3 linked regions of the Homo sapiens genome follow. The protein of the gene in region 3 purifies or fractionates together with the protein of the main gene of each other region. This does not show direct contact. Each region holds a gene or a part of one and is shown on either strand. Other genes may lie near its edges. The genes, in order: EHD4, EDEM1 and CDCP2.

Evidence for each region.
Region 1: the proteins of CDCP2 (region 3) and EHD4 purify together in Homo sapiens (affinity purification with mass spectrometry; one large-scale study listed by BioGRID and IntAct). This does not show direct contact.
Region 2: the proteins of CDCP2 (region 3) and EDEM1 purify together in Homo sapiens (affinity purification with mass spectrometry; one large-scale study listed by BioGRID and IntAct). This does not show direct contact.

Annotation. Positions count from the first base shown.
Region 1 is NC_000015.10:41,899,378-41,903,104, reverse strand, and holds part of EHD4 (EH domain-containing protein 4), read left to right. Parts: intron 1-1,923; coding exon 1,924-2,460; 3' UTR 2,461-3,727. UniProt on the Homo sapiens protein: ATP- and membrane-binding protein that probably controls membrane reorganization/tubulation upon ATP hydrolysis. Plays a role in early endosomal transport.
Region 2 is NC_000003.12:5,208,136-5,211,862, forward strand, and holds part of EDEM1 (ER degradation-enhancing alpha-mannosidase-like protein 1), read left to right. Parts: coding exon 1-128; intron 129-2,039; coding exon 2,040-2,113; intron 2,114-2,984; coding exon 2,985-3,081; intron 3,082-3,727. UniProt on the Homo sapiens protein: Extracts misfolded glycoproteins, but not glycoproteins undergoing productive folding, from the calnexin cycle.
Region 3 is NC_000001.11:54,139,501-54,143,000, forward strand, and holds part of CDCP2 (CUB domain-containing protein 2 isoform 1 precursor), read right to left. Parts: intron 1,934-3,500; coding exon 1,598-1,933; intron 607-1,597; coding exon 253-606; coding exon of another isoform or gene 20-252; exon of another isoform or gene 1-19.

The sequences.
Region 1 (3,727 bases), on a different chromosome or scaffold from region 3:
GCATTTATTTAATAAAACTACTGTTGAAGACACTTTTCATCAGATCTTTGAAGCCTGTCATGTAAAGCTCTAGGTAACTCTCGCAGTTCAGAGCCACAGAAAGTTTGTCTCTTGCAATAAACAAGTGTTTTCTCTCCTTAGACAGTGAGGGTCCCCAGGGGTCCCCCTGGGCAACTGAGCTCTTCTCCTTATACAGGCGGTAGTTTTCCTTAACCTTAGCCATCTGATGTGATTATTCCCTTCCTCTCCCTAACATATATATATACATATGTATATATATACATACATATATATACACATACATATATATACACATACATATATATACACACATACATATATGTATACACATACATATGTATATATATATATATGGGTCTAATGACCAGGCTGGTCTTGAACTCCTGGGCTCAAGCAGTCTTCCCACCTTGACCTCCCAAAGTGCTGGGATTACAGGTGTGAGCCACTGAGCCTGGCCCCTCTCTCCCTTTTAATGACTTGGCTTTTTTCTTTCTAATGACTTTATAGATTTCATGTTATCCTTTTCACTGTGTTATGTCAAGTCCTTTTTTAAACAATTGGAGTATCCTTCCTCCATTACAACATAAGCTCATTTAAAGCAGGAATTATGGCTTTTCATATTTATTCTGTATCCCCAAGCCCCAGAACAGGGGCTGGTGCAGAGTAAATGACAAATAAAAGTTGGTCGGGTAGGTGGATGGATGGATGAATTGTTGGCTGAATGGATGGATGGAGGGTTGGTTGAATGGATGGATGGTTAGTTGGAGGATTAGTTGGACAGGTGGGTTGTTGGATGGATGGATGGATGGATGGATGGATGGATGGATGGATGGATGGATGGAGTAACCAAGGAGAACCAAGGTAGGAAGGTCAGTTTCTACGGTGCCATCCACAGAGCCTCTGTGGCATCCTGTAGTCTGCCCCAGCCTGGTTGGGCAGTCACAGTGTTTCCCAGGCCCCCTCTAGAGCCTGTGCTTCTGCTGCTCTGTCTGCTGACAGGCTGCCTCACTCAACAGGTAGAGCTAAGATATGTCCTGACCTGGCCAGTGATACTCAGGCTTACCAGCTACGTTTATTCCCTCGTGCTCCCCAGCCCTACTCCCTGCTCTTACAAGTTCCAGCTTTTGCTTATTTGTCCATATTTTAGAAATGACAGTGGATTCATGATGATTATGTTGTATATGCAAGGTCTCCGTGGCCCTGCCTCGATACCTTCCTGGGGTAGCACAGGTGCCCCTGGTCAGGCCGTACTTGGTGGGGCTGGTCCTACGGGGTTCCTGTTGAGTAGCGCCCTCAGCTCATTCATAAGAGGTTAGAGCCACTAAGAAGCTGTCCTACACTACATTTTTTTACGTGTTCCGAAAACAAGGTATTTAATTAGTTGTTTTATGTAAACATAGTCCTTCTGTCACAGCTCTGTGTTCCAGCACAGAGAGCATTAGTCAAGAGCCAGGAGACAGGGGCTCTGCTTTGACTCTGCCAGACAGCCCCTCACAGCTCTCTGTAAAATGTGGTTCTAAATGCCTGCCCCTCCTTCCTCCCAGGATTGCTATGAAGATCGGCTGAAGTGTGTAGTGAAATCCCTTGAGAAATAGAATACTAACTCTAGAGCATTTTTAAAAAGGCAGGTGAAAGAAGGTTTCTCAGAGTCCTCGGAGGTTGCTGTCGCTCATGCGGCCACCAGCAGAGATTGGCTGCCATAGGAAAAACACTTGTTTCTTGTTCCAAAACAACCACTCCTATATGTGGTACATCTGGATGTGGGAAGCTCCCAAAGAGTGCACTCCTGAGTAGTGGGTGGGACGTCTGCCTGGGGCAGAATTAGTCTCCCTCCAGTGGCCCCCAACTGTTTCCCCCTGAAGAGACCACATGTAACCCATCCTGTGGTTTGTCCTTCTGCAGGAACAGCTTGAGAACTATGACTTCACCAAATTCCACTCGCTGAAGCCCAAGCTGATCGAGGCAGTGGACAACATGCTGAGCAACAAGATCTCGCCCCTCATGAACCTCATCAGCCAGGAGGAGACGAGCACGCCCACGCAGCTGGTGCAGGGCGGCGCCTTCGATGGCACCACCGAGGGCCCCTTCAACCAGGGCTACGGGGAGGGTGCCAAGGAGGGCGCCGACGAGGAGGAGTGGGTCGTGGCCAAAGACAAGCCCGTCTACGACGAGCTCTTCTACACTCTGTCGCCCATCAATGGCAAGATATCAGGTGTCAACGCCAAGAAGGAGATGGTGACCTCCAAGCTGCCCAACAGCGTCCTGGGCAAGATCTGGAAGCTGGCCGACTGCGACTGCGACGGCATGCTTGATGAGGAGGAGTTCGCGCTGGCCAAGCACCTCATCAAGATCAAGCTCGACGGCTACGAGCTGCCCAGCAGCCTGCCCCCCCACCTCGTGCCCCCCTCGCACAGGAAGTCCCTGCCCAAGGCCGACTGAGGGGTGGGCTGCAGAACGGGGTGGGAACTGGGGGACCTGGGCCTCAGGCCTGCTCCACCACTGACTCACCGAATGACCTTGGGCAAGGCACTGCCCTCTCTGTGCCTTGGTTTCCCCATCTGTAGAATGGGGAGGGTGGACACTGGAAACTAGATGACTTCTTTCACCTCCAAAATTCCCTTAGTTTCTATGAAAATATTGGGGGTAGGGGGGTGGATTAGGAGATTGAAGGGTTGAGAAGAAAGAGAAATTGTCCAAAGAGTCCTCAGAACCTGCCTGGAGAAATGCGCATGGGGGTGGGCCTGGTAAGTCCCAGGAACCACAGGAAGTGAGCTAAGGCTCACCCAGAGCAGCTGGGTCTCCAGGCTGCCTGGGCTTTTTGTCCTCATGAACAACTCTGGAGCAGCTGTCTGTCCCTCAGAGGGCACCTGGAGGCAGCAAAGATTATCTTATTTATTTTATTTTGTTTTCTGCTATATTTAGAGTGGCAAAAAAATAGAGCAGAGGGTTTCTGCTGTCTCCAGACTGTCTACCAAAGAGAAGGCGACAGATGCCTCCTGGGTTTGGAAGGGGGATGCACTGTGGATCTGCCATCCATTCTGCAGTCTCCAGCAGAGCAGGCAGTCAGGCCCCAGCGTGCCTCCATCCCAGTGCCCCGATGACCATCTGGTCAGCCCTCCCAACCTCCCTTCCAGGGGGCTTACCAGCAAAGCCATATTCGGCTAGGAATTTGGAATTCACAACCTTTATTAACCCCTGGCAAAACTTCCCGTTTGCATGTCAAATCACATTGAAGCCTGAAAATTAGCTTTTCTTACTGGTTTTTCCAATAAGTAATAGCAAAGCCCACTTATCATACTTAAACTACAGTAAAGAAAAGAGGTGGTTCTCTGCAGTGATCGTTTAGTGTGGCCCTCAAACATTAAATATCCCGAGGTCTCCTTGGTGGGTGGCAGGATTTAAATTCAATCAAATCCTGTCCTAGTGTGTGCAGTGTCTTCGGCCCTGTGGACACAGGTGAATGAGGGACCAGCCCTGCCCTGGGCTGTTGAGAAGAGATCAGTCCACCCAGAGTTAGACATTGTTTTTGTAGAAAACAGGCATTTATTATGTCTAGGGTTTTGTGTTTTTTTTTTTTCCTTACAGGATAAAAGCCTTTATACAGAAACAAAATGGAACCTTTCATATAAAACCTTTTCTTTAAAGGCTGTGTGGTTCGTATCATGAATGCCCATCACGAGGCAGGATTCGGGCACATACCTGTACT
Region 2 (3,727 bases), on a different chromosome or scaffold from region 3:
TCTACTATGCCATATGGAAACGATATGGTGCCCTCCCTGAGAGATATAACTGGCAGCTGCAGGCCCCTGACGTTCTCTTCTACCCACTGAGACCAGAGTTAGTGGAATCCACATATCTCCTCTACCAGGTACTAGAGTTGTGTTTTTTTTTTTTTCCTTTCACTGCCTCCCCTGACCCCAGCAGTTCATTCTTAATGAACATTTGCTGAGTGATTTAGGGTTATGTTGTTTCATAGTGACTCTGATTGAGTTACCCCCTATCCGTAGTCTTGTTAGTGTTCAGTGTCATTCGTAACTTCACAGGACAGAGAAGGCATCTGCAGTCAAATATGTTTTTAACCTAATATTCTACAAAGCTGAATCATGTTTTTACCGTAGGACTTATAACTCACATCTTTAAGTATTCATGAGGAAGATTTGGTACTAAGGTGTTTTCCAAATGTATGTGACCAGAAGACCCGTTTTTAGGATGCAATTCTGCATCAGTGTACTGTGGAGCCCCGGTCTGTGTAACAACTATTCAGACAAAAAGAAAATTCATTTTCTTGGTTGTAAAGGAAATCATCTTGGATTCATCTGGATGCCTGTTTTTGTTTAATGTTTGTGTTTGTGTGTGTGTGTGTGTATATATATATACACACACACACACACACATATATATGTAATAGTGTTCATCCTTTGTGAAATTACTTCAGTGGTAGAGGGAATGTGACTTTAACTGTGAAATGTCTTCTTCCTGACGGTTGAAGCCAGGTATTTATACTTCTGTGTATGCCATACATATATACACACTGAGAGTCCTCCTCCATCCACATGCACAGCAGCACGAGTGGTTAACTCACCAAGAAACTGGCCTTGGTGAAATTCAGTAGGCCGGTAACAGATGCCCACCGTGGGCCAGCCCTAGCAAGCAGGGCCTGAGTTTTAGAAACTCTGGTAGTGGGGAGTTTTAGAAACTCTGGTAGTGGAGCTAACACTAAGATTTGAATTTATTTATTCAACAATTTTTTTATACCAAATCCTTGCCGTTTGCTTCAGATGAAAAAAGGGGAAAGAAATCCTGTGAAACTGGTAGTAGTCCTCATGCCTAAAAAGGGACTTCATGAGTTTTAGGTAACCTCTCAAAAAAGGGAAAAGATAATAGCCACCTGTTTGGCCTTTCTGAGCCCAGTAGAAAGACTGTACACGGAGGATGGCGTGCCGGTTACTGGCTGATTTCTTCTCTTAAGCTTAGTCCTGTGGCCTGTGAGCTTACTCCTCTTTGTTTCTGTCACTGCTTCTTTCATGTTTTCCGTTTCTCCTTCACGTTGACAGAGATGTCTTGCACTCTTCAGCTTTACCCTCCGAAGCCACACCCTGTGCACTTTTAATCTGGAGACTGCTAACCTTGTTGTTTGTTGCTGCAATCTGGCACTAGGCATGAATTAAAGATCCCCAACTTTTAAACTGTTTGTTGGATAAAGGCTTATCTTCCCAGAGAAGTTTTTCTCTAGTAAAACCATCTAAGAGTATGTGTGAGAAGAGTAGGCAACTGAGGACTGATTTCTCAGGGTGATTAGAAAGGAAAGGGTGGCGGCCTCCTTTCATACTTCGGAAAGTCTTGTTCCCATCAGCCTTTCCTCATGGTGCCATAACTGGAATGGCGGCAAGGTCCTCTTTCCTGTGCCTGTGTCTTAAGTTTCTGGAGAGTTCTGAGGCAAGATAGAAATTGGATTTGTTCTCAGATATGGTGCTGTCAGCGTGGGCATTGTTTTGTTTCTAATCATGATGGCAACCAAAGTAGACTATTGTTCTACCCTGGAACAGATGGTCTTACCCCTGGCTAAAGTTAACCAAATCACAGGTACTCTTTGATGTGAACTGACGGAGTACCTTAGTCCTCTAACCATTGTGACCCTGCAAGATAAATGACCTGGGCCCTGTTTCTTCCTTTGGCTGGCGACTCGTCTCCATGGGGAAGCCCCGCAGTCACCATGATGTTTGTCGATGGCATGTCTTCCAAGCCCATGCTGGATCACATTCTCTCGTGTTCTCTCTAGGCAACCAAGAATCCCTTCTACCTCCATGTAGGAATGGATATTCTGCAGAGTCTGGAAAAGTACACAAAAGTCAAGTCAGTTTTCTAAGTTCCTACCTTTTTCTGTCAGCCACTTTTAATTTATTTCAAATTGTTTTGGGGAAATATCCTAGTTTGCATTTTAATTTATAGAACCAGGTCATTAATGTTACATTTACAGGGAAATTGCTTACCTTTTGGTGTAGTAGAACCTTTCCATTGTACTGAGAACTGCCCTTTCTTTTCCGTGAGGTTCTAGCAGATTATGGGTGTTCATTCTAACTTCTTTCCCCTAGTTATATAATAACATATACGCTAAAATGTTTAGGGAGTACAGAAAATATAAAGCAGTAGAATATTATCACTGTAATCTCCACATACAGAGAAAACTGTAGTCAGTATTGAAATGTATGTACTTATAATCTTTTAAATATTTTTATATATGATGTGTGTATATATGTATATATAAGAAACATACTCTATATTTCAATTTTGTGACATGCTTTTTTTTACCTGCTGTAAGTTTTTTTTTTTAAGTACTATCTTAAATAATAAGTCAATACTCAAATAATAAGTCAATTCTCAATAATAAGTCAATTCTACAAGTATTAGGACTAGAAATTTAAATTAGTCCTTTTACATTTGTTGCCGGTCATTTTCCTGGTGCCACGTTATGCTTCTGGCCAGCACCCCGCCACCACGCCCACACCCTCTAACTCACCTGATAATTTAGCAGCCAAAAGCACTTGCTAAGTAAATTTGCAAACAACCCAGGCTATAAAAAAGGAGAGCCCCTCAATGTAAACATAGTTTCATATGGTGTTGGATGACTGGTTGATTATTCTGATAAGAGAATGTTTCTGCTTCTTAAGTGAATCAGCAGGTGGGAAGGAAGAGAGGCAGGACTGACCAGATGATTGTTTTGTAGGTGTGGGTACGCCACGCTGCATCACGTCATTGACAAGTCCACAGAAGACCGGATGGAGAGCTTCTTTCTCAGTGAGACCTGTAAATATTTGTATCTGGTATGTGTGTTGCAAGATGAACCCAGGAATATTTAGTATTGCTTAGAGCAAGCATTCGCATAGTCTTCCATCTGACAGGTACTTACTGGCTAAAGCTATGTGCTGGACATTGTGCATTCCCAGGATGCAAACGCTGTCAGAACCAAAGGATATTACTATCTTCTTTCATGGTTTCCAACCTTGTTGAAAAGTCATTTGTCAAGTAAACCAAGAACTGAACTTATGATTACAAACTGTGGGAAATCCTGGTAACGATTGATACAGAACCAGTGTTAGTTCTGTATCTAACTACAGGTGGTCGGGGAAGACGCCTCTGAGGAAGAGAGCTGTGTTCATAATGGCTTCTCACTTCTCTTGATGTATGTGATCTTAGCCAAGACCTGCAGCTCAGCCTTGTCTCTGTCCATACACACATCCTCAGGCACATGAGTGAGTGAGTGTGTGTGTGTGTGTGTGTGTGTGTGTGTGTGTGTAGAGAGAGAGAATTTCTGGACCTGGACGAACCCTTTGGTATTACCTAATGTTCATATGTTCATCATTTCCCTCACAAGAACTACAGCCTACACAGAGGTCAGGCGACTTGCTCAAAGTATGGCGATGGCTGTGGCAGAGCTGAGGTGTGAACTGTGGTCCTGACTCCCTGTCT
Region 3 (3,500 bases):
GGGGTGAGGACTCACGAAGTTAGAAGCTGGGGAAGGAGGCTCTGCAATAGTGGAAACAAGCGGGAGCCGTACCGTCCAGTCTTAGGGGTCCCGAGAGTGGGCAAGGGTGTAGCCAATGGAGAAGGAGCTGGAGAAGACCATTCATGGGGGGGGCAGGACAAACTGGTGGGATGGAGGAAGGAGACTGCAAAGACTGAGGCTGCAAAGCCTCCCCTTCGCCCTCAGTGGACCCACTCCCACAGCCCAGCTGACCTCCGATGTAGGCCACAGAGAAGCCCCTGCGGGTGGTGCTGCGGTCTGTGTGCAGCAGAAGCAGAAGCTGGTTGTGGCTTGAGGTCACGGGTGGTGGCAGGTGGTGTCCACACCAATTCCCCAGCAGGGGTGCCTCCTCGCTGGCCCCATCGAAGGCCGCCAGATGGTCAAAGTCACAGGTCTTGGTCAGGCTGTTGGGCTCCTCCAGGTCCAGGTCCAGGAAGAACACCTTGACCTGGTAGCCCGGGGGCAGGCGGATGGTCCAGTGGCAGCGGATGTTGTTGGGGTAGGAGCTGGGGTACTGTGGGCTGGAGAAGTTGCCCCGCATGGCCATGTATACCTCCTGGCATTCTCCTGGATGGGGGATGGGGAGGTGGAAGGAGCAACAGTGAGGGGAGAGGAGAAGTCACTCTCTGCAGTTACAGCTTAGGCAGCAGGTGCCACAGTGGTCCAAAAACCACCAGCAGGTTGTGGGCACCATGGCTAGCACACCAGACAATTGATCCCAACTATCTGAAAGTTGGGATGCTTGATCCCAAAGCTTGTTTTAAACTGCAACTAGCTGAAAGCTGGGACTTGCATTCCAGTTGACAGTCCCCTTCACAGGTGTAGGCCCTGTTAGGAATTCAATAATAATACACAATACCTGTCCTCAGAGTTACCTCTGAACTCCCTGGCTTGACAGATGATGTGGTTCATGCCTGGCCTTTCCCCTTTTCTCACTGCCCCATTTGGTATGTACTATGAGCATACCAAACACTCTCTGCCCTCCAGGCCTTTGCACATGCTGTTCCTCCTGCTTGGAATGCCCTTCCCTTCTGCTTCCGTCTAACTCCTTCAGGGTACTGCTCAATTCTCTTCTCCACGAAGTCATCCATGATTCTTACTGATGGATAGCACAGATCATAATGGCTTGCGCTGTCTGTTTCCTTATAATCTCTCTAACTAGACTGTAAAGTTCCCACGACTTCATCCATTCATTTGTACGAAAATTGAGTACCTACTATGTGCCAGGTACAAAGATAAGCCCATAAGGGACTCAGTCAGACAGGGGAGATTGACATGCAAACCACACACAGAAGTGACAAATGTTAGATCATAGTGTAAAAAACTTATATAAGGAGTTGAAAAAAGGATTAATTCTGGTAAAACAGTAAGTCTTCGCAGAGGTGACATGCTTATGTCTTGGCATAGGCCAAGGGTATGCTAGAGCATTCCAGGCAGAGAGAGTGCAGAAAGCTCAAGGCTGCGGGGGGCAGAAAGGTGTGACCCCTGCAAGTGTAATGGGGAGACAGGAGCCCAGTAGGCACAGGAGGATTCAGGGTGGAGCGCCAGCCCCTCCTACCTGAGAAGTAGTAGGCCTTGAAGCCACGGCCTCCGATGTTGAAGTCGGACTTGAAGACCACCTGCAGTTCGTGGCCCAGAGACACGAGGGTGGGGGGCCTGGTGCTGCCACAGTAGTGGTGCCCACGGGTGGGGCCAGGCCCCCCAAGCACAGCCACGTAGTCATAGGTGCACTCTTCATTGCCCTCCACCTGGAAGTCCACGAACACCAGCTTGACGTGGGCAGGGCCAGCGGCCCGGATCACCCAGTGGCACTCCATGCTGTTCGGGTAGTTGTTGGGATACTCAGGACTGGTGAGGACCCCTGACAGGCCAGTCAGGACGCCGCCACACACATCTGCAAGGGAGCCCACTTGAGCTGACCTTTCTTTCTCCTTGTGGCTCCCAGTTTCCTCCCTTGGGAACAAGACACTCCAACATGCTGCCCCCACAGGTATCTCATTAGGGCCTCATTACCATCCAGCAAGCACCTGCTACCCAAGTAGCAAGTGTAGCACGTGCTCAGGCCCAGCATTTGGCACCTATGCTGCCTGTTCAAATCCTCAGAGTAGCCGCACAAGGACTGTGCTGCAGTTTCTCTGATTTTATAATTAAGAAAAGGGAGGCAAAGACAAGTTCAGTAGCTTACTTGAGTTTGAGTTCACCCAGGCAGACCTTGAGATAAGGATTTGAGTGCAAGGAGTTTACTTGGGAGATCCAGGGGCCCCCAGGTGGGGAGGGAGGGAGAGGACAGAGAAGGGGAGGTGTGTTCAAGTCAGCTGCTGACCTTGGGGGGAACTCTGGGGACGGGGTAAAGCACATACTTCAGAGTTCTGTCAATCTAGGAGCAAGGGAGCTGCGGCATTTACATGCCAACTCCCCAGAGTGCAGGCAGAGGGCTGCTGTGGGCTGGGAGTGCCCTACTGAGACTTCAGAAAAAAGCCCTCCAGCATAGAACTGTGGAGGTTGGCAGAAGCACATCGACGTGGCAGGGCCCAGGGAATGTGGTCAGGGCCCTGAGAGCAGGTCACCCGACTGGTAACTGGGAAAGTGGGATTTGAACCCAGGAAGACTAACTATGGATCCTGTGCACTTGACCCTTGTGACCTTCACTGTCCACTCCTACGAGGCCAGTGGGGCACAGAGGCTGAGGTGCCTGAGCTCAGGAATGTGATCAAACCTCCCTAATGGATGAGGAAACCAAGACTTAGAGAGAGGACCTGATGAAGTAGAGCTTGGTTTGACATCTGAAGACAAGTAGTCTCCCATCTCTGCCTTTTATTAGCTGTGTGACTCTAGGGAAGTAACCCAGCCTCTCTGAGCCTCATTGGAACATTAGAAATCATAAGACTGAACCAGCTTGATCCACTGGGCTCAGACTTGAGCACAGTCTGAAAATATGCTGCTGGAAACTCTCAGGAAGCCAGCTTGGCCAGTACAACTACACGGCAAGTGTGGGTGAATGCTGCGACTTGCTGGAGGTCACCAGCAGGGAGGACATACGTGGGATGTGTTTCCTGAGACTCCAGCATCTCGCCCTATGGCACGGCTGTGTGACCAGGGCTCTGGATGGGGCATCTAAGGACTTGGCGTCTTTTCCCAGTGCTGGCCCAGCCATGTAACTTTAGGAAGGCCCTCTCAGGGACTCAGATTTTGTGAAATGAGAGGGCAGGTTTAGATAGCCTGTGAGATCCCTTCCAACACTAACAACCTTCGCGGAGACTTCCCAACTGTGCCCTGGGGCTCCCCAGCAGCCCCCTGGAGCACCTGCTGGCACCTGGTGCAAATTTCATTCTTATGCTGTATTTCAAGCTCTCTTTTAATGTAATGAAAAGATAGCACCCACAGACTTTAATATCTTTAACAAGATATTAAAATTTAAATATTCTACATTTAAAAATTTAACTCATTAGAGGCCATCAATA